7 linked regions of the Homo sapiens genome follow. The protein of the gene in region 2 interacts with the protein of the main gene of each other region in a biochemical or structural test. Each region holds a gene or a part of one and is shown on either strand. Other genes may lie near its edges.

The links.
Region 1: the proteins of ARHGAP23 (region 2) and DGKK interact in a test that uses a peptide from one of them, tested with the Homo sapiens proteins (one large-scale study listed by IntAct).
Region 3: the proteins of ARHGAP23 (region 2) and MAP2K2 interact in a test that uses a peptide from one of them, tested with the Homo sapiens proteins (one large-scale study listed by IntAct).
Region 4: the proteins of ARHGAP23 (region 2) and SLC15A5 interact in a test that uses a peptide from one of them, tested with the Homo sapiens proteins (one large-scale study listed by IntAct).
Region 5: the proteins of ARHGAP23 (region 2) and DGKZ interact in a test that uses a peptide from one of them, tested with the Homo sapiens proteins (one large-scale study listed by IntAct).
Region 6: the proteins of ARHGAP23 (region 2) and DOCK4 interact in a test that uses a peptide from one of them, tested with the Homo sapiens proteins (one large-scale study listed by IntAct).
Region 7: the proteins of ARHGAP23 (region 2) and SLCO1C1 interact in a test that uses a peptide from one of them, tested with the Homo sapiens proteins (one large-scale study listed by IntAct).

What each region holds. Positions count from the first base shown.
Region 1 is NC_000023.11:50,467,802-50,472,321, forward strand, and holds the start of DGKK (diacylglycerol kinase kappa), read right to left. Parts: upstream 3,025-4,520; 5' UTR 2,878-3,024; coding exon 2,233-2,877; intron 1-2,232. UniProt on the Homo sapiens protein: Diacylglycerol kinase that converts diacylglycerol/DAG into phosphatidic acid/phosphatidate/PA and regulates the respective levels of these two bioactive lipids.
Region 2 is NC_000017.11:38,426,685-38,431,439, reverse strand, and holds the start of ARHGAP23 (rho GTPase-activating protein 23), read right to left. Parts: upstream 2,977-4,755; 5' UTR 2,955-2,976; coding exon 2,892-2,954; intron 1-2,891.
Region 3 is NC_000019.10:4,113,784-4,117,804, reverse strand, and holds part of MAP2K2 (dual specificity mitogen-activated protein kinase kinase 2), read left to right. Parts: intron 1-175; coding exon 176-386; intron 387-4,021. UniProt on the Homo sapiens protein: Catalyzes the concomitant phosphorylation of a threonine and a tyrosine residue in a Thr-Glu-Tyr sequence located in MAP kinases. Activates the ERK1 and ERK2 MAP kinases.
Region 4 is NC_000012.12:16,218,475-16,222,495, forward strand, and holds part of SLC15A5 (solute carrier family 15 member 5), read right to left. Parts: intron 1-4,021. UniProt on the Homo sapiens protein: Proton oligopeptide cotransporter.
Region 5 is NC_000011.10:46,370,942-46,374,962, reverse strand, and holds part of DGKZ (diacylglycerol kinase zeta), read right to left. Parts: intron 3,651-4,021; coding exon 3,579-3,650; intron 3,477-3,578; coding exon 3,360-3,476; intron 3,260-3,359; coding exon 3,188-3,259; intron 2,889-3,187; coding exon 2,793-2,888; intron 2,536-2,792; coding exon 2,453-2,535; intron 2,347-2,452; coding exon 2,286-2,346; intron 2,193-2,285; coding exon 2,079-2,192; intron 2,003-2,078; coding exon 1,862-2,002; intron 807-1,861; coding exon 728-806; intron 565-727; coding exon 509-564; intron 360-508; coding exon 297-359; intron 198-296; coding exon 124-197; intron 30-123; coding exon 1-29. UniProt on the Homo sapiens protein: Diacylglycerol kinase that converts diacylglycerol/DAG into phosphatidic acid/phosphatidate/PA and regulates the respective levels of these two bioactive lipids.
Region 6 is NC_000007.14:112,196,338-112,200,358, reverse strand, and holds part of DOCK4 (dedicator of cytokinesis protein 4), read left to right. Parts: intron 1-4,021. UniProt on the Homo sapiens protein: Functions as a guanine nucleotide exchange factor (GEF) that promotes the exchange of GDP to GTP, converting inactive GDP-bound small GTPases into their active GTP-bound form. Involved in regulation of adherens junction between cells.
Region 7 is NC_000012.12:20,747,071-20,750,868, reverse strand, and holds part of SLCO1C1 (solute carrier organic anion transporter family member 1C1), read right to left. Parts: intron 195-3,798; coding exon 77-194; coding exon of another isoform or gene 1-76. UniProt on the Homo sapiens protein: Mediates the Na(+)-independent high affinity transport of organic anions such as the thyroid hormones L-thyroxine (T4), L-thyroxine sulfate (T4S), and 3,3',5'-triiodo-L-thyronine (reverse T3, rT3) at the plasma membrane.

The sequences.
Region 1 (4,520 bases), on a different chromosome or scaffold from region 2:
CAATTGCATAGCAACATTGAGGGTGTTGTAAAAGGGTTTGGCTCCAAGCAATTTAATTTGAGCACGTACCTAGATCCTTTACATCCTTCAAAATTCTCCAGAGCCACTGATTAGTTAATCTGCATGGCCTTCTTAACGGATGGTCGTGGTTCTTAACCCCATTCTACAGATAAGTGATTCAACAAATGTCTGGCTCTACTAAGGGCAAAGTCAAACCCCTGGGATCCTGGTCTCCTGCCAGTGTTGCCAGATGTCTGTGGGTCAGCTAGCCAGCACGTCTGAGTGGGCACTACGTAGAGGAAACTAATCTGATTCCCCTTACCTTAATCTTCCTCATCTGTCTGGCAATGACATTTTCCTGTCAAACAGGTAGGAGATGCTTTCGCATGGGAGCAGGGGATGCTTTTCACTGGGGGAAGGGTCCTGGTCGCCAGTCAGCCTTTCAGAGGCCAAAGGGGAGATGCATTCTCTGGGTATTACGTCCCCACGTGTCAGTTTCACAGCCATGTTCCCAAAATTTCGCTTAAGATGGCCACAGGTCAGGTGATTCCTGCTTGTCTCTTTCCCACCAGCTTAATGCAAACTCTTCCAAAAAGACAAGATCAATCACCCGGTGAGGGTGAGCTCCCAAATCTAGCCACCCCAACTTTGCCCTTCTTAAGATCACTGCAGGAAAGGGTATTTTCAGGAAGGGGAGGGATACATCCCCTGGTGAGAGCTAGGGTGTTGAATTTTTAAAAACTTATCAGAGTCTCCCACCGTCATGTTTTATTTATTTTTAAACCTCTGCACTTTCTTTTCTCTGTGAAACTTTTCATTTTAGCCTTCTTTTTCAGTTATTCGTCATTGCAGATATTTTGCAAACTCAAGCCTCCCTACTAAGAACTCAGGAAGCAACCAATGCTTCCATTTCGTGATGCCAATCTGCCCCCTCCCCTCCCGCATTCTACATTCTATAAGTGTGCGGTCCACAGCAGAAGGGTTCCTGAGCCGTGTCCTTATGGTCTGCTAGGCAGCAGGATGGACCGGTATTGTTCGTGTGTTGTGTTATTCGTTTGTGTGTGTGTGTGTGTGTGTGTGAATGCGCGCGCGTGTGTATGTCTTCCTGCAGGGGAAGCTAAATTGAGGTGTGTGTGTGCATTATCCTGGTTTTCAGTTTTGTGGAACGAAGTTTAGGGTAAAGGAAGAGTAGGGAGAGTGCAGAGAAAGCAGGAAAGACAGGCATACTCCCGCTTAAGAGCAGACGGGGTTTCAGGGTCCAAGGTAAACACGAAAACCTTTTTCCTCCCTACTCCCCTTGGGCGAGTGCCAGAAGATTCTCCACTCATCTTTTCCCGGCTAAGTGTAACGATTTAGAAGGCGTCGCGGTAGACTGGTAGAGATGAAGGTTCCCCTTCACACGTTCTGCAATCCCAACTCCTATTTTCGTGTCTCTAAACCAGGACTCCTGTACCATTCCAATTGGCCCTGGTGCGGGATGCCAGTTGCCCCGTTTGTGACGCTGCGCAACATTGTATCACTGCGTTTGCACCTACCTGCTGGGAAATCCTGCAGACAGATGGAATGGTGGCTTCGACACACGCATGCTCTCCCCCTCCTCCCGGAGAACCCTGCCCTTCCCCTGCAGTGCGCGTGGGCGCCGCCCATCCCCTCGTCCTCACCAGGAGTACCAGCTCGAAGCAGCCGGCAGAGGCGCCGGGCACCTCCCTGGAGGGCCGCCAGTTGCGCCCAGCTGAGGCGCCCCCTCCCCAGTGGCAGGGAGGGGGCCAAGCAGGCGAAGGCTCCGCAGCTTGGGCCTCTGCGGCAGTGACCGCGGCTAAGAGGTGTGTCCCACCGCCCCCACTCAATCCGTCCGCTATGTATTCGGGGCCAGCCCCAAACACTTCTCCAGGTCTCTTGCGCTCCCCGAGGGTATCTTCCTCCTCTCTTTCAAGATATTGGCGCTCACCGCACTGTCGCTTCTCTTCAAGGGGAAAACTGCTCCGATTCCCACCCCCTGCTGTCACCCCCGTTTCTAGCCCCAAACAGCCCATTCTCGATTCCCACATGTTGCTTCCCGCCTCCCAACCCCTTCCCATTCCCCCGGGTTCCCCATCCCTGCATCTTTCTCAGCATCTTGGCCAGCCAGTGCCAGACAAGCGGGATGCAAGGGGTACCCGGAGTCCCGCGGGCTCCATAGCCATCTGACTTCGCCTTGCTTCTTTTCCCCGCTTCAGGGGGTCTTTTGCTTACCTTTATTCTGGACCACGACATTGGCGTTCTGGGCGATGGCGATGGCGATGGCGATGGCGAGGTCTTTAGACCTCTCTCTCGAGTGTCCACCGGACATTGCAATAGACATGGTGCTGGACTTGGACGGAACTCTGGAGCCGCCTCAGGGCAGAACTCTGGGGCCAGCTCTGTCACAGGTTCTGGGGTCGGCTCTGGGGCCAGCTCTGGGGCAACTTCTGGAGTCAGCTCTGGGGCCGGCTCTGGGACCGACTCTAGGGCAGGTTCTGGAGTCGGCTCTGGGGCAGACTCTGTGGCAGGTTCTGGGGCCGGTTCTGGGGCCGGCTCTGTGGCAGGTTCTGGGGCCGGCTCTGTGGCAGGTTCTGGGGCCGGTTCTGAGGCCGGCTCTGTGGCTGGTTCTGGGGTCGGTTCTGTGTACAGTTCTGTGGCTGATTCTGAGGTCGCCTCTGGACAGGGACCTGGAGCAAGCTCTGGACAGGGCTCTGGTATGGGTTCTGGCGAAGCCTCGGAGAGCAGCGGCGGAGCCGGCGGCGGAGCCGGTGGTGGTGGCGGCGGCGGCCAAGGCGGCGGAGGCTCTGGAGACTCAGCGGGCTGCTCTCCATCCTGAGGCGGGGCAGTGCCCTGGGCTGCGGCAGCTCCGCGGTCCATGGCCGCACACCGCTTCAGGTCTGGGCAGCCTGAGTCCCTAAGCCTGGAAGGCTAAAGTACCCTCGGGCGCCCCGCCCACTCCAGTCCGGCAGCCCCTCGCAGGGTGCCAAACTTTCCCCCATCCCACTCCATGGCTGGCTTGGCTCTGAGGTCTAACCCGTGGGCGCTCAGCGTCTCCCTATGCTGGAACACGCCCCTCAGTGTGCGCACACCTCTTCGTAAGCAGCCACGGGTCCGATGGGCGGGAAGCAGAGGGGCTTGCGAACGCGGACTGGGCAGAGCGCTTGATGACCTCCTAGCGACGCGCGGGAGGGGAGGGGAGAGACAAAAAGGGGAGGGGGAGTGGAGCGGCGTGGAGGTTGGGGGGCGGGCTGGAGCCTTGCCGTGTTTAACCCTTTAGTGACACGAATGAAAAAAAAAAGCCAGAGGCGAAGTTGAGGGTCTTTGCAATCCCCCAACCACTTAGCTGCTGGTCAGAATAGCTTCCATCCTGTGTCTGCTCTCTCACCTCAGCAGCAGGTGAGCTTAGCCTCGGACCAACCTCTTGCCCCCCATCTCCAAGCCTCGATGGGCAAGTAATGCTTTTTATCTAAGCCGGGAAAAGAAATTAAGCGGCATGGTGTGTGTGTGGTGGGGGGGGGGGGTGCGGGGGGGGCGGGTGTTCAGCCTCCTTTGGATTGAAGTACAATTTGACCCTCTTCGGTTTTTTGCATTTCTGAGCTTTGCCGTTGGGTACAGAGTTTGAGGTGATTCGGGAAAGGAGTGTGATGAGGGAGGCTGGCGCCCCGGCTTTCCGCAGCCTGCAGCCTCCCCGAGAGCAAGTCGAGAGTGCCCCGGCAGCAGCTGGGCTTCGCGCTCGGGAGCTGAGGCTATCTGGGCGTCTGTCTGGCTCGCCTATGCTATAGGAGCCTGCCTTGTGCTTTTAGCTGGATTTCCCAGCCATCAGCAGGAGTTTGTTTTTCCGCCCCCCCCAAACTTGTTAACGCGCGCGCGCGCGCGCGTGTGTGTGTGTGTCTGTGTGTGTGTGTGTGTGTGTCTTGGGCTGGGGAAATTCACTGCAACACCCACACCCTTTTCACCTCCTGAAGCAGTCTGACATTAGAGATGGGAGATTCTCTTGGGAAGAGAACGACTGATGCCTAGCGCAGCACCTTTCCCACCACATCGGAAGACTTTAGAAGCTCTTTCTGTTATAGTCACGTACACATACACACAAACCATCATCTTAGTCAGACCTAGACTTTAGACGCCAATATATTACCAATTGTAATTAAAATTTGAGAAGACTACCTGTTAAGCCACAGCTGGGTGGGGGGAGCGGACGGGGGAGAAATACCTGTAAACCTGATTTGAAATATGACAAGTGAATTTATCTCCCATACACATAATGCTGCAGTTGTGGGTAGCAGCCTTCTTTCTGCAGCCCCTTCTCTAGCCATCTACTCCCAGACCATATCCCCCACTATTCCCTCTTCTTTTGCCAACGGACACTGACCTAGCCAGAATTTTCTAGAATCTGCAACATCTTTCTGTTGCCTATACTATGTCTCAGCAATAAATAATACCATAAGAGCACAGTTTCACCTAAATCCCTCCAAAGACCAGAATCTCTGGTGAGGTCTGCATTTCCCAGATCCTCGCTG
Region 2 (4,755 bases):
GATGGTGAGAGCAGGATCATTAAAACCAGGCTTTGTCCAAATCCCTGACCAAGCCAATATCTTACCTTTGAACCCCTGCAGCCAACAGAGCAGGGCTTCATGCCCCTTTGGAAGGAAAACACCAGTGAACCGAGCCCTGGCCCAGTGCTATGGGCTAGCATGGGGCAGGGTGGGAAAGATTGGAGGAGTAAAGAAATAGAACAAAAGACAAGCAACTAAGCTGCAATCCAGCCAGAAGCTGACCTTGATCTTGGGCTGTGTAGAAAATGGACACGGATTTGGGGTGGGAGTGACAGCGGGACATAGCAGGTCCTGAGAAGCCAGATAGTGAGGGTGAGAGCCAGACTCTAGAGCCAGACTGCCACATTCCTACCCTGGCTCCACAGTGCACTGGGGGTGTGATTTGGGCTGCAATATTGGCTATGCCTCAGTGTCCTCAACTGTAAAATGGGGATAATAATGGTATCTACCTCTTAGTGGTATTGTGAGGATCAAATGAGGTAGTTTTTATAAATACTGGCCAGGAGTTTTTGCTGTCTGTGTATTAACTATGAGCTATACTGTGAAAGCAACTCCCCTTTCTTAAAAACACATTTTTTGTTTCCAGGCACCAGTGCTCATTTGAATATATTTGCTGGAATATTTGATATCTCCAATGACCATCTCCAGGTTTCTACATTGGAATCCAACTTCACAAGAATCCACTTGACCCACTATACTGGAGGAAACTTCCCTGCATGGCTAGCCTGGGATGCTGTGGGTCACAAGCCCCTCCCTAGAAGTTCTCCTGAGTATCTAACTGCAGTCCCTCACACTGTAACTTCTTCCATGCTGCTGCTTTGTAGTCTCTCTTTTAACCTTACACATCAAGAAGTCCTTCTGAGTATCCCTGCAATGTAGGATGAAGCAATCCACTACCCACTCCTGCACTGCTCTGCTCAGAACCAGCACCCTCCCTCACCCCCACTCCCATCCATGCCAAGAATGCTGCACTTCTTCCCCGTGAGCCAGGGTCAGCCCGAGGAGAGGGGCACAAGCACAGGGCCTCTTCCCCCCACCCAGTCCTTCTCTGCTTGGGCTGGGATCCACACAAGCCTGACCTATTCCCGTAGTCAGACACCTTCCTAACAGCTTTCCTCCCCAAGCTTCATCTTGTGCCCTGACTACCCTCAAGTGTCCTGGGTTCTTGCCTGGGCACTGTCACTACATAGGCTCAGACCCTCTCTGTGAAATGGGACACCAACACCTACCCTGCCCACTCCCATTCTTCCTGTTTATTATTATTGAGGCCTTTGAATCCAGCACTGAATGTAGAGGATTTACTGCTCCCATGGTTCCCAAGAAGAGGTCAGGTCCTCAGATGCAGGATCTTGGAATTCCCAGCCACCTTGGGGTGGACCCAACCACACTGTGGGCAAGTGGAAGAAGCCGCTGGGGCCGGGGGCCTTTGGGCTGCCTTTGGAGGCGAAATGACTGGTTATATAATCGAGATTCAAATCGCATGCCAAGGAGCACATGGCAGTGAGAGCTGTCACTTTGGGGAATGGGGTCTGTTGCCCTGGCAGAGGGGAGAACCACATGGGATCAAAAGCCACTCACCCCCAGCTAGGCCGCAGGGTTGGGGTGGAGACAGAGAGGGGTGCAGGGGATAGAGATGAAGTATGTGTTGCTGGTGGGGGATTGAATCCAAGGGACTCATGCTTGGATTCATGACCTCCACCCCCACCCCCCGTCCATCCTGAATTTCAAGTTCATAATTAGGAAACACACTTTGGCTGAAGGGAGTCGGGGAGAGATGCAGATTGAGGGAGAACTGAACACACATCCAGCAACCAAGGAACACACCAGTCTCCAAAAGAGTTGCAAGCACCAGATCCCACCTTCAACACTGCCGGGAAAGCTGGGGAGGAGGGTCCCCAAGTCTTTCAGCCCTGTCTAAAGAGGAACAGGCCTCAGCCCTGGCCTTGACCTCAACCTGGACCCCGGGGAATTTCTTTTCCGAGCTCAGGGAAACTGTTGGCCTGACAGTGTTCAACCCTTCAACTTAGGAGCAGGGAGGCCTGCTGGGGGGCTCCTGCAGGGCGGGCAGCCAGGCTCAGAGGTAAGGGAATGGCCCTGATGGGGGGATGGGGCTGGGAGGCCCCTGCTGGCCCCTCCCCAGCCTCAGCAGCTGGCAGATGAAAGAACCCAGGCAGAGCAGCCCAGCGCTGAGTAATGCCCCTGGCACCCCGCGCTCTGACCCACCCACAGCCGGTCGGAGAGGGCAGAGGGGAGGGCAGCCTCGCCGGCAGAGCCCGGGGTCCTGGGCCTGTGTCTAGAACTTCCCCAGGATCCAGGAGGGCGGCGGAACCGCGCCTGGCAACCCGTCCCGCAGTCCGACCCGGCAGGGGGCGAGTGTGGCGCGGGGAGGGGGTGTCCGGACGCCTTAGTGGAGGACGTCCCGCTCCGGGAACCCCCTCCCCCACCCCCTCTCCCTCCAGCTGTGCCGGGGCCTCGCCAACGGAAAACGAAAACTCGGGCAGAGGAAACGGCGGCAGGCGCCCCGCCTGAAAAACCCGAACAAAAGCCGCGGGCCTCCCGCCCCCGCTGCCCAGCCGCTGGGGGCCTGGCACCGCCACCTGGGTCTGTGCCCCCTGTCCTGACAGCCCCGTGCCCGTCCCGACCCCTTGCCTGCTTCCGTCCTTCCCACCCCTCTACCCCGGACAGCTCTTGCTCGGGCCCCCTCCCGGGCCTGCCACCAGCTGAATCTCCCCGCAGCGGTGCCCGCGGTGCCCGCGCCCACCGTGCGCCCCAGGCTGTGCAGGGCGAGCGGGGTCGCAGCGACCCTGGCTTGGCAGCCCGCTCCCCAGCAGCTACCGGCCCCGCCCACTTCCCTGGCCCAGCACCCTCACCTGTGGGGGCCGGGGCTCCGGGCGGGGCGGGATCCCGACCAGGCAGAAGGCGACTCCATTCATCGGGTGGCAGCGGCGGCTCTGCGGCCGGGGCACGGCTGGGGGCGCCGGCAGGGACCCGGGAGGGGCGGGGCCGGGGGCGGGGCCGAGCGCGGTGTGGGGGGGCCCCCCCCGGGGTCCGCCCCCTCGCCCCTCCCCCTTCCCACCACCCACCCCGCGCTCCCTTCTGGGTGCCCCGGCGGCCTCGCTCAAGGGCCACAGACCTGCAACCGGGCTGAGGCAGAGGCGAGCGCTGCCTGAGAGCTGGACGTCAGAGCCCAGCCTGGCGAAGAGAGGCGGTCTCCAGGAGACGCTTGCCCGGCCTCTAAGGGACCGGCCCAGATAGAGGGCCATCCAGGCCCAGGAAAGAGGACAAGGGCACCGAACCCAGAACTAGCACGGGGATAGGGAGGGAGGGAGAGGGAAGCAAAGAGAAACAGCCAGCCAGAGATGGTCAGAAACAGAGATCCAGAGACCCAGAAAGCATGAGAAAGGCAGAGACAAGATAGAGACAGCGCAGAGAGAGGCAGAGAAAGTCAGAAACAAAGATGAGGAGACCCAGGATCAGAAAGGGGGGAAGACAGAAAAAGGCTTAGAGGCCCCCTTCCCTTTAGAGACCCCTAGACATTGAGACACAAGGGAAGATTTAGTGCAGGGGGTGGGGAGACGGGGTGCCCCTCAGTGTAGGGTAAGCCCCTCCCAGCCAGAGTCTCAGCCCAGGATCCCAGAGAGGAGGGGGAGTCGAGCATAGAAGAGAGGCTGGCAGGTGCCCCAGCCCTTCGGACCCCCACCCAGCCAGTCCTGGGGCTCAGGCCATGGGGCCAGCCCACAGTCCTGCTCTGCAGTGAACAGCAGTGACAGCAGAGGCTCCCAATCACCAGCACCCCACAGCCACCCTTCCTGGCTTCACTCTGAGCTGGGCCTAAAGAGATGCCCTGGTCCTGAGCCAGCTTCTTTCCTTGTCCCCCAGAAGGACCCCCTCCAGCCCATCCCCTGACAGTCCAGGGAGGGACAGTCCTTCTGTCTTTCTTTTCCTTTTTTTTTTTTCGGCAGGGTCTCACTCTGTCACCCATGCTGGAGTACAGTGGCACAATCTAGGCTCACTGAAACCTCTGCCCCCAGGTTCAAGTGATCCTCCCACCTCAGCCTCCCCAGGTAGCTGGGACTACAGGCCCATGCCACACCGCCCACCTAACTTTTGTACTTTGGTAGAGATGAGGTTTCACCAGGATGGCCAGGCTGGTCTCAAACTCCTGACCTCAAGTGATATTCGCCTGCCTCAGCCTCCCAAAGTGCTGGGATTATAGGCGTGAGCCACCATGCCTGGCCTTGTCCTTCATTATTAGAAAATAGCTAGAAAATTCTTTCTACTATCTAACTCCCATTCTTCCTGCTTCTTACTTCCTCCAGCTTATGCTTACCTCTTTCCCATGACTTTTTCAGTTTAAGGGGCTTCCATATTCCTTTTCCCAGATTATGTAGAAAAGAAGGCGGAGGATAAAATAGGACTTGGAGAGAGGAGGCAGTGAAAGCGGGAAGGCCAGCTCTGCCTGCTGGAGTCACCACCTTCCTTGGGCAAGGAGACCCCTGAGAGCCGAGCAGCCCCAAGACCTCCACCCCTTTAACCTTGATCAGGGTTGGGAACTCAGGTCTTAGAGGGGTTGGGGTGCCCCAGACAACAATTAGGCCATCCCTACTCCTGTGAACCTGAGGAATGAGATACTGACTGGGGTTTAGCTCATATGCTTTATTTAATGTATTTTAAATCCCCTGGCAGTCAAGAGAAAGGGATTCTGTTTCATAATAATGGAGGGGCAGTTAAATG
Region 3 (4,021 bases), on a different chromosome or scaffold from region 2:
ATTGGTGTGTCTATGGGGGTACACAGCATGGATCCTTTCCTTCTACACCATGAACCCCTCAAGTGCAGGAATCCAGTCTGTGTCCTCCTGGGGGCCGATGCACCACGGCCACATAGCAAACGGCCAGATGGAGTCTCCCTAGGTAGCTAACCCCTACCCTGGGGGGTCTCTGCAGGGCAAACCTGGTGGACCTGCAGAAGAAGCTGGAGGAGCTGGAACTTGACGAGCAGCAGAAGAAGCGGCTGGAAGCCTTTCTCACCCAGAAAGCCAAGGTCGGCGAACTCAAAGACGATGACTTCGAAAGGATCTCAGAGCTGGGCGCGGGCAACGGCGGGGTGGTCACCAAAGTCCAGCACAGACCCTCGGGCCTCATCATGGCCAGGAAGGTGAGCACTGCGGGGTCGGGGAGGTCGGGGAGTGGTGGGGAAGGTCCCCCTGGAAACAGGAGGCAGGTTGGGAAGGCAGCCGGGTCTCTGCATTCTGATTAGCTCCAGGCTCTGTCCCTCATCCCCACCAGGGACTCTAGGTCCTGAGAAAGGGCCCAGCTTCTGGGCAGATGGGAGCCGTGCCAGCCACACCAGCCACACACAGCTGTGCCCTCCAGTGACTACTTTCTGCCCTGGAGGGCACTTGAAATCCATATTCCCAGAAAGCTAGCACGTGGGGGTTTCAGAAATGCGAGTGTGTTATGGTTCTCCAGAGAAACAAGCGATGAAGACGAAGCGTGTGTGTGTTTGCGCCTATGTGTACAGCCACCTCAGGGCGATGGCTCAGCCAGTGACAGACCGCCTACGCAGCGGTGGCGACGTAAGATGATCAGGCCATGTTTTTGCTGTGCCTTCTGTATGTTTATTTTTATTTTTATTTTTACTTTTTGAGACGGGGTCTTGCTCTGTTGCCCAGGCTGGAGTGCAGTGGCATGATCTTGGCTCACTTCAACCTCCGCCTCCTGGGTTCAAGGATTCTCTTGCCTCAGCCTCCCGAGTAGCTGGGATTACAGGCACACACCACCAGGCCCAGCTCATTTTTTTGTGTTTTTAGTAGAGGCAGGGTTTCGCCATGTTGGCCAGGCTGGTCTGGAACTCTTGACCCCAGGTGATCCGCCTGCCTCGGTTCTCTATATTTAAATAAACAGACAGCAGCTCAGCACTGCGCTGTACAGAGCATGGGAGCCTGGGTGTGGAATGGGCTTTCCAGTGTTTGCACAGTGACGACATCGCCCAGAGAGGGATTTCTCAGTGTATCCCTGTCCTTAATGATACTTGAGTGTATGTGTAGAGAGAGATTTATTCTAAGGAATTGGCTGGAGTGCAGTGGTGCGATCTTGGCTCACTGCAACCTCTACCTCCTGGGTTCAAGGGATTCTCCTGCCTCAGCCTCCCGAGTAGCTGGGATTACAGGTGCATGCCACCACACCCAGTTAATTTTTGTTTTTTTAGTAGAGATGGGGTTCACCGTGTTGGCCAGGCTGGTCTCGAACTCCTGACCTCAAGTGATCCTCTTGCCTCGGCCTCCCAAAGTGCTAGGATTACAGGCATGAGCCACCGCGCCTGGGCAGGCTTTTCCCTGAAGGCCTTCAGCTGATTGGCTGAGACTCACCCACCCTGGGGTGGAGTAATCTGCTTTGCTCAGAGTCTGCCAATTTAAAGGTTAATCACATCTTAAAAACATACCTTCCCAGCAACCTCTAGACTGGCGTTTGACAACTGGGCACCGTGGTCTCACCGAGGAGACACACAAAGCTGACTGTCACCCACCCTTTGAAAGTCTGCAAGCCCTGGTGCTGACGGCCCCCGTGCTTAGTCATCCCGGGCTCCTGGGCCATGATGCAGCCTCTGTGCTCTGTGTTTGAGAATAGTGCCCAGGGGATACAGGGAGGATGTGACCACTTGGGGACAGTGGCTCTTAAACACAGAAGTAGGGGACTTAGTGTTGACAGGGTGTTCAGCTCCTCACCGGTGTTCTTTCAGACCTAGAACGCTGCCTCTTCCTGGAAGCCCACCATCCTGTAGTTCCCCAAACTGGGGGAACGTGACTGCACCTAGTCCCGTGGGTCTGCGCAGGTGGCAGCAGTGCTTGAGGGCCCTGCCTTCCTCGGGAGCAGCGGCTCAACTCCTGCGGGGATTTAGCTCTGCAGCTCTGTCTTCTGGCCTCTAGAGTGCTGCCCTCCCTCCCTCCTGAAGTGTGCAGCCGCGGACTTGCTATTTCTGTCCCCGTACTGCAGGCAGCCTCTTCCAAACCGGAGCAGCCTTGGAAAGCTCAGGTCCGCCTCCGCCCGAAGCACTGGGTGGAAAAAGGCAAGCGTGTGGTTCACACAGCCACAGCAGGGCCTTGAGACAGTGCCAGTCCTCGTGTGTGCCAGGGACCCTCAGGCTTCTGGGGGAGCCTCCAGTGGTCCCTGATGGGCTGGGCAGTGGACATGAACCCAATGCTTGCTGTATCAGCAGCTCCTGCTCCTGCTGACAGGCGCAGGTGAAGCCGGGCCCACCTGCAGCTTTACTGTAGCGGGGAAAGGGAGATCGGGGCCTTTGAACCTGAGGGCAGGCGTGGCTGGGCAGGTTCTGTGGTCTGGTGGGTGGAGATGTCCCAGCATCAGCTCTGGGTGTCAGTACTGTCCTTCCGTCATGTAAGATGTCAGTCATCTTGGGGGAGGCGGGGAAAGGGCGCACGGGACTCTCGTTACTATTTTTGCAACTTCCTGTGCTTCTATAATTCTTTCAAAATTAGGTTTTCTTTAAAGTGCCCGAAAACTCGGGTGGGAGAGGATGCATTGAGCTCGTGGGCTCAGCGGCTCTGGCTGCTATGCAGGTAGGGCTGCAAGGGCTCCTTTCATTTCATCTTATTTATTTACTTATTTTTATTTATTTATTTTTTTGAGACAGAGTCTCGCTCTGTCACCCAGACTGGAGTGCAGTGGCACAATCTCGGCTCACTGCAACCTCCACCTCACAGGTTCAAGCGATTCTCCTCCCTTAGCCTCCTGAGTGGCTGGCATGCCTGGCTAATGTTTGTATTTTTAGTAGAGACGGGGTTTCACCATGTTGGCCAGGCTGGTCTCAAACATCTGACCTCAAGGAATCCATGCATCTTGGCCTCCCAGATTGCTGGGATTACAGGCGTGAGCCACCGCGCCTGGCCCAGTCTCGGTATTTGAGGTCATGCTGGTTTGTAAATGTCTTTTTGGCTTGACCGTGGCCTCTGACCCCTCTCCCATTGGAGCAGCGTCCCCGCGTTACCTGGGCCAGGGAGATAGGTGAAGAACTTGCTGCTTGTTACGCGTGTGGGGCTTCTTTGAATTGTCCATGCTCATAGCAGAGATGAGAGTGTTTGTTCTCGCCTCTGAGTTCCTCCACTCCGCTGTAGCTTACTTCCAGGGTGGCGGTCACACGGCCTGCCCAAGGCCACCTCACAGTACCAGCTGCTGTCTCACAAGTGACGACCTGAGTCGAAGCCGCTGCCAACACCTTTGACGCGTGTTCTCATTAAAATTGAACAGCAGCCTCGTTTTACAGTTGAAGAAACCGAGGCTGTGTGGGGTCAGTGCCTGAATCGGATTCGAACCCTCTTGGATCTGCTCGGACTTGGGAGCAGCTGCCGGGGCTGAGCCTCCAGATCCACTGCACTGCGGTCCCCTAGCTGGCCACCGCTCCCAGCCTGTGTGTTAATTTTTAAAATCTCTTGTAGAGATGAAGGCTTGCTACGCTGCCCAGTGTTGAACTCCTGGCCTGAAGCGATCCTCCCGCCTCAGCCTCCCAAAGCACTGGAATTACAGATGTGAGCCACTGCCCCGGCTCTCTTCCAATTTTTGACAACACCTAATTCAGGATGTTTGGAAGCGCAGTGTGGGCTGCACGTGACTCTTGGCTACATCCAGCTTGGGAGCTGTCAGTTTCTGATCCATGATTTACGAGGTTGCTGAGATCATTCCAGGCCTGCGGGGTGGCGGCCGGGGGGCGGCTCGGTCCTCCTCTTCCCCTCCTGCTCTCGCTGACACTCAGTGAAGCTCTTTCCTCTCTTTTCC
Region 4 (4,021 bases), on a different chromosome or scaffold from region 2:
AAACATGATCGAGTATACGTATACAAACCTATATGGTCTAGCCTACTACACACCTAGGCTATATGGGTAGCCCATCACTCCTAGGCAACGAATCTGTACAGCGTGTGACTGTACTGAATACTGTTGGCAATTAGAGCACAGTGCTAAGTATTTGTGAAGCTGAACATATCTAAACACAGAAATAGTATAGTAAAATATGATACTATAATCTTATGAAACTGCCGTCATATACGTGATCCATCATTGATCAAAATGTTGTTACGTGTTGCATGACTGTACTGTAAACACTAAACATTTAGTTTCCTTCTCTATGAGAAGTAAGAGATCTTATTATCTCTTCCTGCTCCTCTCGGGAATATTTACCCCTGGTTTTTTGTTTGCTTGTTTGTTTGTTTTTAATACTTTGCTGCAGCAAAACTCTGCATTTACCAGAACTTTTCCATGATCTTACTAACACATGATGTAAATGTATTAATGCTCCTTCCTTAATTTAAAATTTCTGTTTTACTTTCGGTGTGTCCTGCACATGTCTTGATTTATTTATCCCATAAAGATTTAAAGGAATCCCATTTTGCACTTCAGGAAAGTGCTCAGTGCTGGAACTGAGAGGTGGGAAAAGGCATCAGTTTATCTTTCCTGGACTTTAAACTCTGGAGCAGAAACAGCACATTATTTAGTACAAAGGGCAGTGCTAAATGTGCACTTTTCCCACAAACGCTGATTGGAGATGAAGATAATAATGGTGATAGGTAAAATACTGTGGAGAAGGGCTTCAAATATTGGTGGCACGGTAGCACAGCTCTTTGTGTAGTACCAATCACCAGCAGGAACCTTGGAGTATTTTCAGAAAGGTCCAAATGGGAATATGAGAGGAAGCCTGAATAGGCTTTGGGAATAAATGATTCACAGTTATAAAAAGGATTTGGCTTATAAACTTTCCTTTCCATAAGTACAAGGAGACAAGCAATGAGCAGAAAGAGTAAGTAGGCCTATTTCTTTCACTAAGAAAAAGCAGAACATACAAGCCCATTATTACTCTGCTAGTTAATTATTAATCCTATGCTTTTCTCCTGCTAGAACTTCTGGTACGGTATATAATTCATGAACACACTTTGCCAGCTCTCTGCCTGCTGGTTAATCTCTCTTTGGTGTCATTTTAGTCGTTTTTGAAAACCTCCAGTTCCCTTTTATAGGACTTAGCTTTTCAAGTCCTCGAATCTTCATTTTTAGGCATCTACTTGCATGTTCTGATCTTTTGAAACTTTAGTGATCATCAATTTGATTTTTTTTAGGCTCCGAGATATTTCTTTTAGCCCATTACAATGTAGATAATATCAATAAGTCTGTCACTATTGTAAAGTTCCCGTTTTTCTATGAAGACACAATAAAAAATATTCAGTGTGTACGTGAAAGCTGGTCTTCTTGCCAATGAGCGCTAAAAATGTGCCTCCAGGTAGTAGCTGGTTAGTGCTTGTAAAGATGCCACATCACAGCATATGAGGAATCTTCAAAATATAGGGCCATAACCACCTTCCTAAGGCACCTGGTACTGGGGACTTATTGCTGGAAATATTTTTTACTCTCGTTGTTCTTAAACAGTTAAAATGTGTGTATTGTGTTTGGTGAAAAGTTATTTTGAACATGTGGAGAAGAAGTACCACAGTCCCAGAAAATGGAACTTTATCCTGTTGCCATTTTTAGACCATTATATCTCCCTTAACCCTAAAAAAGCTTCAGCTTTGAAGCTCATGTTATCAGACTATATCATCTACTTCCCTTTCATGCTGTCATCTGCCAATCTATAGGACATTTTCCTCTTTTTCTCAGAGTTGTCAGTTCCTCTCTCATTGTCACACTCTCTGGTACTACTTCTGCCTTAATACTTGGCAATTTTACTATACATGTAGATCATCCTTCCCACCTTCCATCCTTTCAATCTTGGTTGTCCAGTTCCTTGACCTCCAATGTCTGATCTCCAATCTACCTCAGCTTCCACTCCACTCACACCCAAGGTCATGGCCTATGCCTTGTACCTCAGACCAGTGGTTGGCCAGCTATGGTCAGGTAATATTCAGTTTGCCACCTATTTTAATAAAGTTTTATTGGAACACAGCCACGCTCATTTATTATATGTTGTCTATGGCTGCATTCATACCACAATGACATAGTTGAGTAATTGTAACAGAGACTGGCCTGCAAAACCATGTGTTGGATCAATAACTGTACCCACTCCATAATCACAATTTTGTGCACCCTTCTCTGATTAGAGCCTTCTATCTTCCCAACTTACTCTCCACTACTCAACCACAGAGATGCTATAAGCTATAATGGCAGAAATTTTTGTCTTATTTTTTTTAACTGATGTGTCTAAAACTTCGAGAGCAGTATTAGGCACACTGTAGACACCCACACAGTATTTTTTGAATAAACAAACATAGGGTATGAGACAGCTGAGGTGTACGCTGCTACAATTAAAACATAATTTGAAAAGTTTCCTACTGCTTTTTTTTTTCTAGCTCATCTCCAATGTATAACATGTCTTAGTAGGGTAGGCTATGTCTACTGTCATTTATGGAGTGATTCACTGTGTTTCCTTGCTCAATGCCATCAATGTAGGACACTGTCAAAAGTTTGAATAATACATTTTTATTGTACCATATAGAAATAGCCGTAGACTTCATTCATTTGTTTCTTCAATCAAAATGTATTTATTGATCACCTATTTTGTATATGTACTTTTCGGAAAGGAGAAACATACCTTGATGTCAGGAATGTATATTCTTACAGTGAGAGGCAGGCAATACAAATATAAATAAAGTAATTTCAGATTCTGACAAGTGCTATTTAAAAAACCAGGGTAATTAAGTGGAAAGTGATGGAATGCTCAAGGAAGCCCCTCCAAAGAGAAGACCTTTGAGAAAGCTCAATAATGAGAAGCCAGTCATTTGAAAACAGAGGAAAGGGAATTCTGAATAAAGGATAAAGCAAGTACAAAGGACTTGGGGTAGACAGAAATCTAGCATCTTAGAAACACACACATTTCTGGGGATGTGGTCAAGGGGCAGATTGTAACCAAATGTAGGTGGAACAACACGTGGAGACCAAATCATGTGGAACATTATTCACCATTGTGAATAATTTATCTCTAAAACTCTACTGTGGAATTTCAATCAGGGGAATGATAGAACTTATGTTTTGAGAAGAACACCACAACTGTTTTGAAGAGAATGGACTCATGGGGCAGGAGAGGAAGCAGGGAGAAAAGTTCAGAGGCTCTGGTCGAATTGGGGCTGGAGATGATGGTGTTGTACACCAGGAGAACAAAGGGGATAGTGAGATGTGGCCAGATTTAAGTTATATTTCAGAGTAAAAATGAGGACTTGCTGTTGGATTGGAGGGGAGAGGTGAGAGGAAAGAGATGGATCTAGGATGAATCAAGTGAGAGACAGTTCTGCTTATGCTTCCAGGTCTCCCAGCTGTTCAGGTGGTTTATGGCAGAAAGAGCTGGGAACAGGACACCTGTGCTTCTGTTCTGAGTCTGACACTATTAATTCATGTGAAACATGATAATAATATTAGGTTGGTGAAAAAGTAATTGTGGTTTTTGCCATTACTTTTAGTAATGATAACAACACATTATAACTGCTAATTATTGAATGCTGTCTATATACGGGGCACTGCGGTTTTTGCTTTACATAAAATCTTCCACTTAGTCCTTTGAACAACTCCCTGTTTTATAGATGATGAGAAAAGCCCAGAAATGAGGAATAATTTTCCCAACGTCACAGAGTTAGTCAGTGACAGAACTGGGTTTGAATTCAGATCTGTCTGACTTTAAGACCATAGAGCCTAACCTCTGTGCTGTACTGTCTCCCAGAAAGGTAATACTTGATTTTATAGTTTGAAATACCCTTTCATATGTTATGTCATTTGATTTTCAAGGAGTAGTCTCTCATTCCCATTGATGCTTACCCTATCAATGCTGTGATATAAAGAAGAATACAATTATTTCTATTTTAAA
Region 5 (4,021 bases), on a different chromosome or scaffold from region 2:
GGCCCCAGGGCATGGTGCCCGCACAGTACCTGCAAAGGCGGGCGATGACATGGGCCTCAAAACACAGTCTCTGCAGGACAAGGACAGCAGGGCTCCCCCCAGCTCCGGTAGCCCCCTCCTCACCTGGGGATGTTCAGGAAAACAACACACTGGGGTTTCAGGTCCTGGATCTTGGGAGTCAAGTCCATTCCATCACACTGGAGGCGGGCGGGGAGGGTGTTGAGGTGCATGTGCCAGGTGGCCTCCGCCTCCCTCCCTTCCGGCCCACCCACCCACGGCAGCCTGGCCCCGCTCACCACCACTCGGATGTGCTTGGCCAGGTCCTTGGAGCTGCCCATCAGGAAGTCAGAGAAAGCTGTCTGTGGGAGACAGAGGGCGTCACCATCTGCTGACAGAGATCTTTCCTCACCAGCACCCGGCAGGGCTCCTGGGGCCTGGTGGACACAGGTGGGCACGGGCACGGGTGGTAGAAGAGGTGGGCACAGGCGGGGGTGCAGACCCCACTCACCCCGGCGTAGAACATCTTATTCCGAAAGCGGCTGTTGAATTTCTCTGGGTTGGCCTCTGGGTGGAGACAAGCAGTGGGGGCCAGTGAGTCACCCCAGCCTGCCCAGGTGGGGTTGGGGGAGGGCTGGGATGGATGCCTTCACTGGCGGGAGCAGGGTCTGACCCTCCCGGGGACACTCCTGTGCCCACCCTGCCCTGGCCTCAGTGGGAGGCTGCCAACCTCGAGACTCGTGGAACTCCAGGGTGACGTGGGCGTCAAAGCCCAGGCTGAAGTAGTTGTTGAAGACATCCAGGGGCAACTGGAAAAAGGTCAAGGGACCAAAATGAGGGCTGGGCCTCACAAATGTCCCCGCTCCAGGGGCCTCGTGTGGCCGAGCCAGCTCAGCCCATCTGTTCACAGGCTTTTCCTGGTCAGCAGCGTCCGCTAGGGCTCAGCCCAGCTCACCCGCTGTCAGGCACAGCCCTGCTCTGCCTGGTGGCTCCTGGGGGATTTCCCTGCGTGCCTGCAGCATCTCTTCCCTGTCAGCTCCCCTAACACTTCTTCCTGACATGCCATGTGGAGCACAACAGCGAGGCTTGGTTTTGCTCACTGCTTAGAGAAGTGCCTGGCAGGTAGCAGGCGCTCAGTGCATGTCTATGGAATAAAGCAGCATCTTCTGACCAGGCGTGGTGGCTCATGCCTGTAATCCCAGTGCTTTGGGAGGCCGAGGCAGATGGATCACCTGAGGTCAGGAGTTCAAAACCAGGCTGACCAACATGGTGAGACCCCATCTCTACTAAAAATACAAAAATTAGCCGGGTGTGGTGGCGGGTGCCTGTAGTCCCAGCTACTCAGGAGGCTGACGGAGGAGAATAGCTTGAGCCCGGGAGGCAGAGGTTGCAGTGAGCCAAGACTGTGCCACTGTACTCCAGCCTGGGTGACAGTGAGACTCTGTCACAAAAAACAAAAAACAAAAACAAAAAAAAAAACAAGAAAAAAAAAAGAAAACAGAAAAACAAAAATTAGCCAGGTGTGGTGGCACCTGCCTATAATCCCAGCTACTCAGGAGGCTGAGGCAGGAGAATCGCTTGAACCTGGGAGGCGGAGGTTGCAGTGAGCTGGGATTGCGCCACTGCACTCCAGCCTGGGTAACAGAGCGAGACTCAGTCTCAAAAAAAAAAAAAAAAAAACAAAAAAAAAACACAGAAAAAACAGCATCTTGTGAGGCAAGTACTATTATTCCCATCGTACAAGGAAGAAGTGGAAGTTGGAGAAATGAAGAGACACGCCCGAGGTCCCAGAACCAGCAAGTGGAAAAGTGGGATCCAGTCCCCAGTCACCTGCCCTGCCCCCCACCAACCCTGGCCAACTTACCCGGTCGGTGGCGCCTTCATCTCGGTCCTCAGGCCCTGCCTCGGGGTTGGGCTCAGCGTGGAGGTCCCAGCGGTCCAGCTGTACCACGTTCCCCTCCTCCACGTGGGAGAGGATCTTGGACACAGGCTCATCTGTGTAGCCCTGGGGGAGCAGGCAGGGACTGAGCCCTCTGTGGCTGGAGAGGCCCCAGCTGCACCCCCCTCCTATGGGTGCTTACCCCACCCCAGTTGAGGGTTCGGGCCAAGTCGTTGCCAGTACCCAGGGGCAGGATGGCAACAGGGGGTGGCGGCTTCAGGCGTAGCTGGTCCAGGGTGGAGAGGATCCAGCCCACCTGGGGGAGGAAGAACAGAGGCAAATCAGGCCCACAGGGACCCCGGCTTCAGGCCCAGCCCTGGTGCTCGGCTGGCCCATGCGGGGAGCTCACCGTGCCGTCGCCCCCGCACGCCAGGATCCGCAGGTTGTGCACTTTGCGGTACATCTCCAGCCTGGGCTCATGGGAAGATGGCAGTGGGGTCAGGGGATGTGTGCTGTACCCCAGGAGTGAGGCAAGTTCCCCCCCATGTCCCCCACAAAACCTTGGCAAGTACTTACGCCTCCTTGGGCCCTCCCTGGCTCAGGTCGAAGACTTGTCGGGGATTGAGATACCAGAGGAAAGACTGGATGATCTTTGCACCCTGGATGGGATGGGGAGCCAAGAGACAGTCAGGCAGTGGTGGGACGAAGTGGGAGCAGCAGAGGGAGAGGGGTGTGACTGTGGGAACCAGGGCCAATAAGGGGTGAGGGGTGGAGAAAGGACAGGATTTTCTCAGGATCCCTGGGAAAGAGGGATTGGGGTAGAAGCCAGAAACGGGCTCTGGGAACAGCTGCTGGCAGACGGGCTGGACCCCAACCCCCGCCCGAGCCCTTAGCTGAGAGGCAAGGCCGCGTTCACCTGGTTGCCCCCACTCTTGGGGTTCACAAACACCAGCAGGGGCTTCATGAGCGGGGAGGGGGTGGGCCTGATGATGAAGGGTCTCCAGCGGCCCTCCTGGGAGACAAGGTGAGAGGCTGTAAGCTCCTTCCCGTCCAGGACACCCTACCATCATCCTTAGCAGGCCCCCTGGGTGACTTTGTTCCCTCTTTGTACCCTCACGTACCATCTCTGGGCCAGATCTTACCAGGCCACAGAGCAGAAACTGGCATCTAATCCTGCCTTCCTCAGAGGCCCCAGAGCCCACACAGACCCCCACCAGCTGGCAGCATTAGCTGGGGGTGGAAGTTCTGTACCCTGAGCAACAGACCCCTCTCTCCTGCTCCCCTGCAGCCTCTGCCCAGCCTGGGGCTGACCTCAGGCCCTTTCTTGCTGGACTTCCTCTTGAAGGATGCCCTCTTCTTCTTCTTGCTTGCTTTCAGAGTATTCTGCAAGGGAAGCAGGGGTGTTGGTGACGAGGTGGGCAGGCTGGGGTAGCTGGCAGACCCCAAGTGCGTACGGGGCATCAAGGGTGCAGGCAGTACTCACCTGGGGCCTCCGGGCGCGGAGGATCCAGGTGGGCGGGATGACCACGGCTGCGTGGACCCCCAGCGAGCACGGCTCCTCGATCTGCTGCAGCATGAAGCAGGACACCTTGCTGTGGTACTGAGGAGAGCGAGGGGCCGGGCTCAGCGGGACCGTGTTCAGACTCGGGGACCCAAACCCAGCAGTGCAGGGCCTGGCCCTGGGGGCGGGGGCACCACTCACTGCCTGCTTGCACCACGAGCAGCTGATGGCCACAATCTCCTTGCTGTGGAAGGTGAACTTCTGCTGGAATCCCTGAGGGTAGACAGGATGGATGGGAACCAGGGCAGGCGTGGAGCAGCAGACCCAGCCCCTCTCCTGGTGCCAGCCTCTCTCCACCCAGAGACAGGGCCTCGCTATGTTGCCCAGGCTGGTCTCAAACTCCTGGGCTTAAGCAATCTGCCTCAGCCCCCCCAAGTAACTGGGAACAACAGGCATGTGCCACCATGCCCAGCTTTGAACACATTTTTTGTTTTTGTTTGGAGATGGAGTCTCGCTCTTGTTGCCCAGGCTGGAGTGCAGTGGCGTGATCTTGGCTCACTGCAACCTCCACCTTCCAGGTTCAAGCGATTCTCTTGTCTCAGCCTCCTGAGTGGCCGGGATTACAGGCGCCCACCACTACGCCC
Region 6 (4,021 bases), on a different chromosome or scaffold from region 2:
TTAATCTTGTTTGACTATTACCCATAAGAAATATAGTTAATTTCCTGACCTAGTATATATATAAATATCCCCCAGTACCACCCCACACACATATAATTAAAACAGCACTTGCTTATACTCTATGTAATGTTCTATTCTTTTTTGTTAAAAAAAATACTTGTCACTAAATTGACTTGTTAATGGGTCCTGACCCACAGTTTGAAAAACACTGCTTTAAATGCTACATTTGTGATACCAGAAGGACTGCAACTCACATCTTACTGGGTTTCTGTGAAGTTCCTTTCATGACATTGGCAAGGAGTTGATGGTGGTGGTGGTTATTGTCTTTGATAGTCAGATATGTGGGTTTATTTTAACAAAGAATTTAATTATCCTTTTTTCCTTCAGTCTAAGTCAAAGTCTGTCTTCTGTAGTATTTCTTATTAAAGATGGAACAAATATTTAAAGCCATCACATGCATTGCGTAAGTTTTCTCTTTTAGTACTTGTATGTCTTCCTACCAGGACCTTTTTGACAAGGATTACATAATGACCAATATTAGACTCTTCTGTATCATGTCCTTTGACAACACTCTCTGGTCACTATAACAGAAGAGTAAAGATAATGGTTTACTGAGGTACTTTGCCAGTTGTAGGTTTACCACTCACTATTCTTTTGTACCTTTTTTTATGTTGCTGATCATTATTAGAAAGACAAGGCAACTTGTATAACTTGTTTTATTAAAAAAGTGAACTATATGCTTATTTGGCTAGAGTATATAAGACAAAAAAATAAGGAATTAAAGTTCCCCAAGCCTAGCTTCATTTAAGCAACTTAAACTTACTTCAGGAACAACTCTTGGACTCTCTGGCATTTAAAAAAAATTGTGCCAAGATGACATTGGGTAACTACTAAGTAAATAAAAATCATCAAAAAAGTGGAATGCCTTTGGTAACGTAACTGCAGTAAAACTGATATGCAGTACCCTGAGGAATGTATGGTAATCATGATCCTTTTGGAAACTTTTATATAACTTTTATTGGAAACTGCAATATAAAATAGCATTTGTGGAGCACTTGCTACATGTCAAGCACAGTTCTAAGAGCTTGTCTTATATTGTCATTTAATCTTCATGATACCTCATGAAGGAGGATTCAGTTATCACTCATATTTCACAGGAAATTGAGTCATACAGGGATTAAGTAACTTATTTAAGGTCATACTGTAAATGGTGGAGCTAGGATTGGAACCTAAATTGTCTTGCATAGAAACTGTTCTCTTAGCCATTACGCCATGTTACCTAGTATGACAGTGGTTAGCAGAAGTTTGAATCAGTAATCCCACCCCTTAAAGTTTATGTGACAAAATAAATCAATAGCAACAAAACACTTTATGCACAGAGTTGTCCCTTGCCGTGTTGTCTGTGAAACAACTTACATGACCATGTAGTCGTTAAATCAGTTTTGGTTATGAGCACGTTGGAGCATCAGACAATCATGAAATGAAATATTTTCATAAACAACACTATTTCAAAAATATATTCCAGGTATCTAGTGTTAAATGACAAAAGAAGAGTAAATATAGACTATGATTAGAGCTACATAAAATGTGTAGCCTATAGAGAAGAGGCAGTCGATGCACAGATGAGAACAATTTTTTTGTTAGAATATATAGATTATCAGTAAGTTCTTTTTTAAAAAATCTGTTTGGAAATATGAGCAGTATTGAATTTTAAATTACACATTGTTATTTATGAAGGAAGAGGTGGCATAAAAATGAGTAAAGAGAGGCACTGCAGTAACTGAGGTGAGAGATAAGTCCATGAATCAGGTTAGCAGTCATTGTCATGGTGAAGTGTGGATAGATCTGAGAGATATTTAGGAAATGAAAGCAACAGGTTTGGTCATCAGATATGAGGAGTTAAAGTAAGGAAGGAGTTTAGGATGTTGTCTTAGCTCAGGATACTATAACAAATATAGACTGGATAGTTTAAACAAAAGAAATTTGTTTCTCACAGTTCCGCAGGCTAGGAAGTCCAAGATCAAGGTGTTGGCTGAGTCAGTTCCTGGTGAGGGCCTTCTTCCTGGTTTGCAGGTGGACATCTTCTTGCTGTATCTTCACGTGGGTAGGGGGAAGGGGTCATGGGGAGGAAAGGAAGCAAGCTTTCTCTCATCTCTTCTTATAAGGTCACGAATCCCATCATGAAGGCTCCCCCTCATGGCCTAATTACCTCCCCAAGTCCCCCATCTCCAAATACCATCACATTGAGGATTACAGTTTCAATATGTGAATTTTGGGGGCATATAAACGTGATTTATAGCAGATGTCTTCCTGTTTTTGGCTTGGGTGCCTGGATGAATACAGGTGCCATTCAACAAAAGAACCAACTTTTTTTTTTTTTTTTTTTTTCTAGGCAGGTCAGGCTTATGTAAGATGAAGATTTTTGTTTGGCCACCTTGAGTTTGAGATACCTGCAATTTTTGAGATACCTGCAAAACATTCAGGTGATGAGGTCTAGTAGAAAGTGAGTCTGCACCAAAAAAGAGAAGTTCTGTGCTGAAGAGTGTGATTAAAGATTATTTGGCTTAGGAGTGAAGGCTGAAGTAATGAGTCTAAATGAGACTTCGCTAATTGCTTTGACTTTGATTATGTATAGTCTGCCTGTTCATTCTAAGTTTTAACATGACAGACCCCAAATTTCAAACAGCAGTCATCTCGAGGCATTTTATTAATATGGGTACAAAGGATTCTCAAGTAAGAAATATTAGCTGTCCATTTAGAGTTGGTCGTAAACTACATTTTACAGTCTTTTCTTGCTTCCCTCTAGGGCGTTGCCTAGCTAAGGCATTAGTTATTTCTATGTCTGTGACAGTCTTCTCCCAAACAAATATTTCATGCCAGATTGTGCACGTTTGTGAGATTTCCCAGTAAGGATGTTGAAAAACAGAGTGCACGAATAATATTTCAATGAACAAGATTTATACATCCCTGAAACAGCATTTAAGAACACGCACCCATCTAAAAATGGAAAAATGCTTCAATATATAAAGCAATAGATTTGTACATACAGTTTTTTTTTTTTTTGGTAAATATATAATACCTCTTAGGAACCACAAGAATTCTTAAAGTTATACTATGGCACTCCTGAAAAATAAGTGACTTAAAGGAAGGAATTCTAGCTTATGATGGCACTAGGTTCCCTTCCCCTCATGTAGGCTCTCCTAACTAATCAGTGAAATAACAATAAATTCACAGAAAGAGGCAAACATTAATAATACTGAAAACTAAGTCTGACAGAACGTCTGTTGGCAAAATTCACGTGAAATTTCCCTAAGGCAGGTGGAACTGGTTGAAGAAAACCAATGTTTTCTTGGTTTTCAGTGGTACGGCGTGGTGATTATAGTTAACAATAATGTATACTTGAAATTTGCTAAGAGAATAGATTTAAGTATTCTCACTACAGGAAAAAAAGGGAACTGTGTGAGGTGCTAGATAGTTAATTAGTTTGATTGTGGTAATCATTTCACAATGTATGTGTGTATATTTAAGGTGATATCAACATCAGTTTGTACAACTTAAATATATACAATTTGTATTAGTTAACAATACCTCAATAAAGCTGGATTAAAAAGAGAAAAAAACCTATTGGTGGCTTCTTTTGGCTTTCCCTTATTAAACAGAGAGGCCTCAATGACTGGAAAGATGACAGGAAGACCCATTGCCCCTTCCCCACTCTCTGTCACCAGCTTAGAGACCAGGTCAATACATCCAACTTGGAGCACGCCATTTACTGCCGGAAGCATCTGTAATCCTTCTCTTTTCACCCCATCTTTTTAATTCTGTTGAGAGATGACCACTCTCAGAAACGAGCAGGACAGGAAGGTGGGTAGGTGGGTGGAAAGGGGTCTATAGAAGATGCCACTTCACCATTGAGAAGTGTACTGTGGTCTTCATAAGGACAGTGATTTTGTAGTTGCTTTGAAAGTATTGCAATAACAAAGCTTACTGGATAGTGTAGTTTTTCTGGCAGGGTATTGGTGAC
Region 7 (3,798 bases), on a different chromosome or scaffold from region 2:
CTTGTTAGTGTCAGTGGCATTGTGTAAATCTGGGATGCTGTAGCAATGAGATGCGGGAATGCTTTTGATTTGGTACCTGAAGACATTTGAATCATATAATCTGCATGATCCTCTACTTCCACATCTTTTAAATCCCCATTTGAGGCATGAAGTATCAATCAAAACTCCAAAATACACTGGAGCTGGGATTCCTGCTGTGAGAAAAACAAATAATTGCTGTTAAAAACATATGCACATCTTTTTGTCTATGAACGATTATCTGAAACCACTTACTTTAATCTAATTACTGTTTTGGAGATGAAAGGCCATCAATTACATGCTGAAATCTCCCAAACCTATCTCTCTAATCCAGTCTTTTCTCATAAGCTCCAGAATCATGCAGTAACTGCCATTTATTTATCTCCAGAAGCATGTCACTCAGGCACTTCAAACTCAACATGAGCTCAACTTCTTCCCCTATAGACCTGTCCCTTTATCAGTGGAAGCCCAGTCATTAAAGCAGACTTGTGAGTTATCATTGATCCTTCTTTCTCCTCTCTCTGGCTATCACTATATTTAATCTGTCCCGGAATCATACTGAGTCTATCTATTAGGTATATCTTAAACACTTTCTCTTCTTTCCATTCCCACTGCCACTCCTTCTACCCTAACTTAAAGCAACAGCCAATTCATGATTCCTTGGCTTCATTCATTAACCTTCTCAAATCTGTACATCATACAGAGGTTGCATCACTGAATTAAGTAGGTGACTTCCCAAGACATCTGTTCCAAAAGAAGAGTAGTTAACTGAACATTGGGTCTTTCTACTTTTGTGGCCTCACTTTGGGCAAGATTGTTGTCTTACATTTCAGACTCAAATTTTCTTGGATTTCTTTCAGTGACTAAAATGTTCTCTCCTCTTGTCTGAATGCCTTGTGTAGTTTCCTTTATCCCAAGCAATGATTTTCTCTTATTCACATTCTTAATACACACTCACTTTTAAAATCCAAGTTTGAACGTTTTCCTTCAGTTCATTTTGATAAACTAAACTGCATTAATTCTCATTGTTTTACATCTCATCAAACTTTAAATACTCCTGTAATAGCTTGTTGAATTGCCTTCTCTGCTAGACTGTAAGCTCACCACGGTAGGAAACATGTCCTCCTTATTCATGCCAGAAACCCTAGTAGGTTCTCAGAAAATGTTAGGAATTTAATCCCTCCTTAGGGAGAAAATGTGTCTCTCATGTGCAAATATTAACGAAAGTATCTTAAGCAGTTGTTCATAGCTCAGTGTATATTTTATATGTTCTAAATTGGTGGTTCATTAACATTGGTTATTTAGTCTGTGTAGACTTTGGGATTTTGTTTTTTAGTTAGTAGCCAATAGCTGAAACCTAGGAGATTTCATATAAACTTGCACACTTCTGAGTTCTCTTAAGAACCATGTTGTCTGGCAGTCCATGGTCATAGTTGGCTGGAGTTAAGCAGCAGCTGCCTCACTCCCCCAACCGCTGCCTACACTTGGAGTCCACCACAAGTCCATACAGCTTTCTCTCTGCCTACATCACTCGTTTCCATCAACTGTCTGGTTGTTTCCGGCATTTGAGTTTTAACCTTTTTTGTATATGTTTTCTTCTGTTATAAAATTGCTTTGTATGCTTATATTGAACAAAATAATCTCACTAAATTTTTAAAGTCATCTAAGAATATTTATGACACTTCTAAATTTCAGAGATTATCCATTTGTTCTTTGAAAACAAATGAAAATATTTGAAAATATTTTCTATGTAAAGGTTTACCTAAACTTTGCAAATACTCATGTAAATAATTGATTCAATCCAGACTCATCGATGGCTGCTAAAATTTTGGGTGAAAGATTTTTGGGAAACAGAATGGTGACATAATCTCGAAGTGTCAAATTATAGGTGACTTATTAACTGCAGAAGGATTTTTCAATGGAGAAAACTGGTAGACACCACCTTCACCAAGGGACCAAAATTAAAATTCCAATGAGGTATAAACTGAAATGATGTGCTTCCTGATATGATTTACTAAGCATCATGCAAATCACGTGTGTAGTATTGCCACCAACAATATTTTACCTGGACATACTCACAAGCAAACAAACACATCCAATAGTTGGGATATTTTACAAAACAACTGGCTTTGCCTCTTGAAAAAAATATAAATGTCACAAAAGAACAAAAAAATAAGAATGAGGAATTTTTGGAGATAAAGAAAGGTAACTAAATGCAATATGTGGTCTTTGACCTTGGATCAAAAGAAAAAATAAAACACTATAGAAGACACTATTGTTATAATGAAAGAAATTTGAATGAGGGATTATATTAGATAGAGTAGCATATCAATGTTGAATTTCTGAAGTGTGAGAATGGTATTGTGGTTATATAGGACAAGTCTATATATAGATTTGCTCTAGTAGAAGAACACAAGTTGAGGGCTTTGGGAGTGAGGTGTCAGCATGTTCACTACTTATTTTCAAATGATTCAGCAAAATATTTGTATGCTCAGAGAAACAGAGGAGAGAGATTTCTGGTTTTTGGACACAGTTGATAAATCCCAGTAAAAGTTATACAGTTATTCATTGTAATTTAAATTTTTTGGTAGATTTGAAATTTTCGCAACAAATGGGAGAGAAAGAGGGAAGTAAAGCCTATGGATTAAAAAAGATTTTAGAGATATATCACCTAATGCAATTGTGGACCTTGTTTGGTTCTTAATTCAAACCTACATGTGTAAGGAAACATCAGATAATTTAAAGAATTTAAGCAGTAATTGGGTATTTGCTAATATTAAGAAGTTATTTTTTAAGATGCAAGAATCACCAGATTAAAACAAGTCATTATGGTTTTGATTAGAAGAGCACACCAAACATGTTATAGAAGAAATACAGTAGTCTGAGACTTACTTCAAAATAAGCTAGTTGGGTAAGTAGTTAGGGACACAGATGTCCTAAGATGAGCTGTGTATTGATAATTGTTGAAATTGGGTAATTGATAAATGGGAGTTCATTGCTATCTTTGCTGTATACAAAGACAGTTCTTGCTATCTTTGTATATGTTTACATTTTTAAATAACAAATGATCCCCTCTATTTTGCTTGAAACCCCAAGAACAAGAAGAGCAGAAAATTTTGAATTAAATTTGGATTATTTGGTGCCTCAAAAACCAAACAAATATATGATTTACCACTTAAAAAATCCAGGTGATAACCAATTTTACATTACCTTTAATGATGTGAAGACAAGCCAAAAAAATTCAAATGTTTGCAATTTTCTGTACGTGGTTTAAGATTATTATAATAGAACATTTTCAAAAATTCACAAAAGCAGACAGAATGATATAATTAACCCTCATGTACCATCATAGCTTTGACAATTATTAATGTTTTGCCATTGCTGTTTCATCTCTCTCCCCATTCTGAACTCTATTTTTTTTTGAGACAGAGTCTCCCTCTGTCACCCAAGCTGGAGTGCAGTGGCACAATCTTGGCTCACTGCAACCTCTGCCTCCTGGGTTCAAGCAATTCTTGTGACTCAGACTCCCCGAGTATCTGGGACCACAAGCATGCACCACCATGCCAGGCTAATTTTTGTATTTTTAGTAGAGATTGGGGTTTAGCTATGTTGTAGCCAGGCTGGTCTCGAACTCCTGGCCTCAAGATATCCACCCGCCTCAGCCTCCCAAAGTGCTGGGATTATAGGCATGAGCAAATGTGCCCAGCCTGAACTCTTACTTTAATATTTTAAAGGCAATCTCAAACATCATGTCATTTCAATTATGTATATTTCAGCATG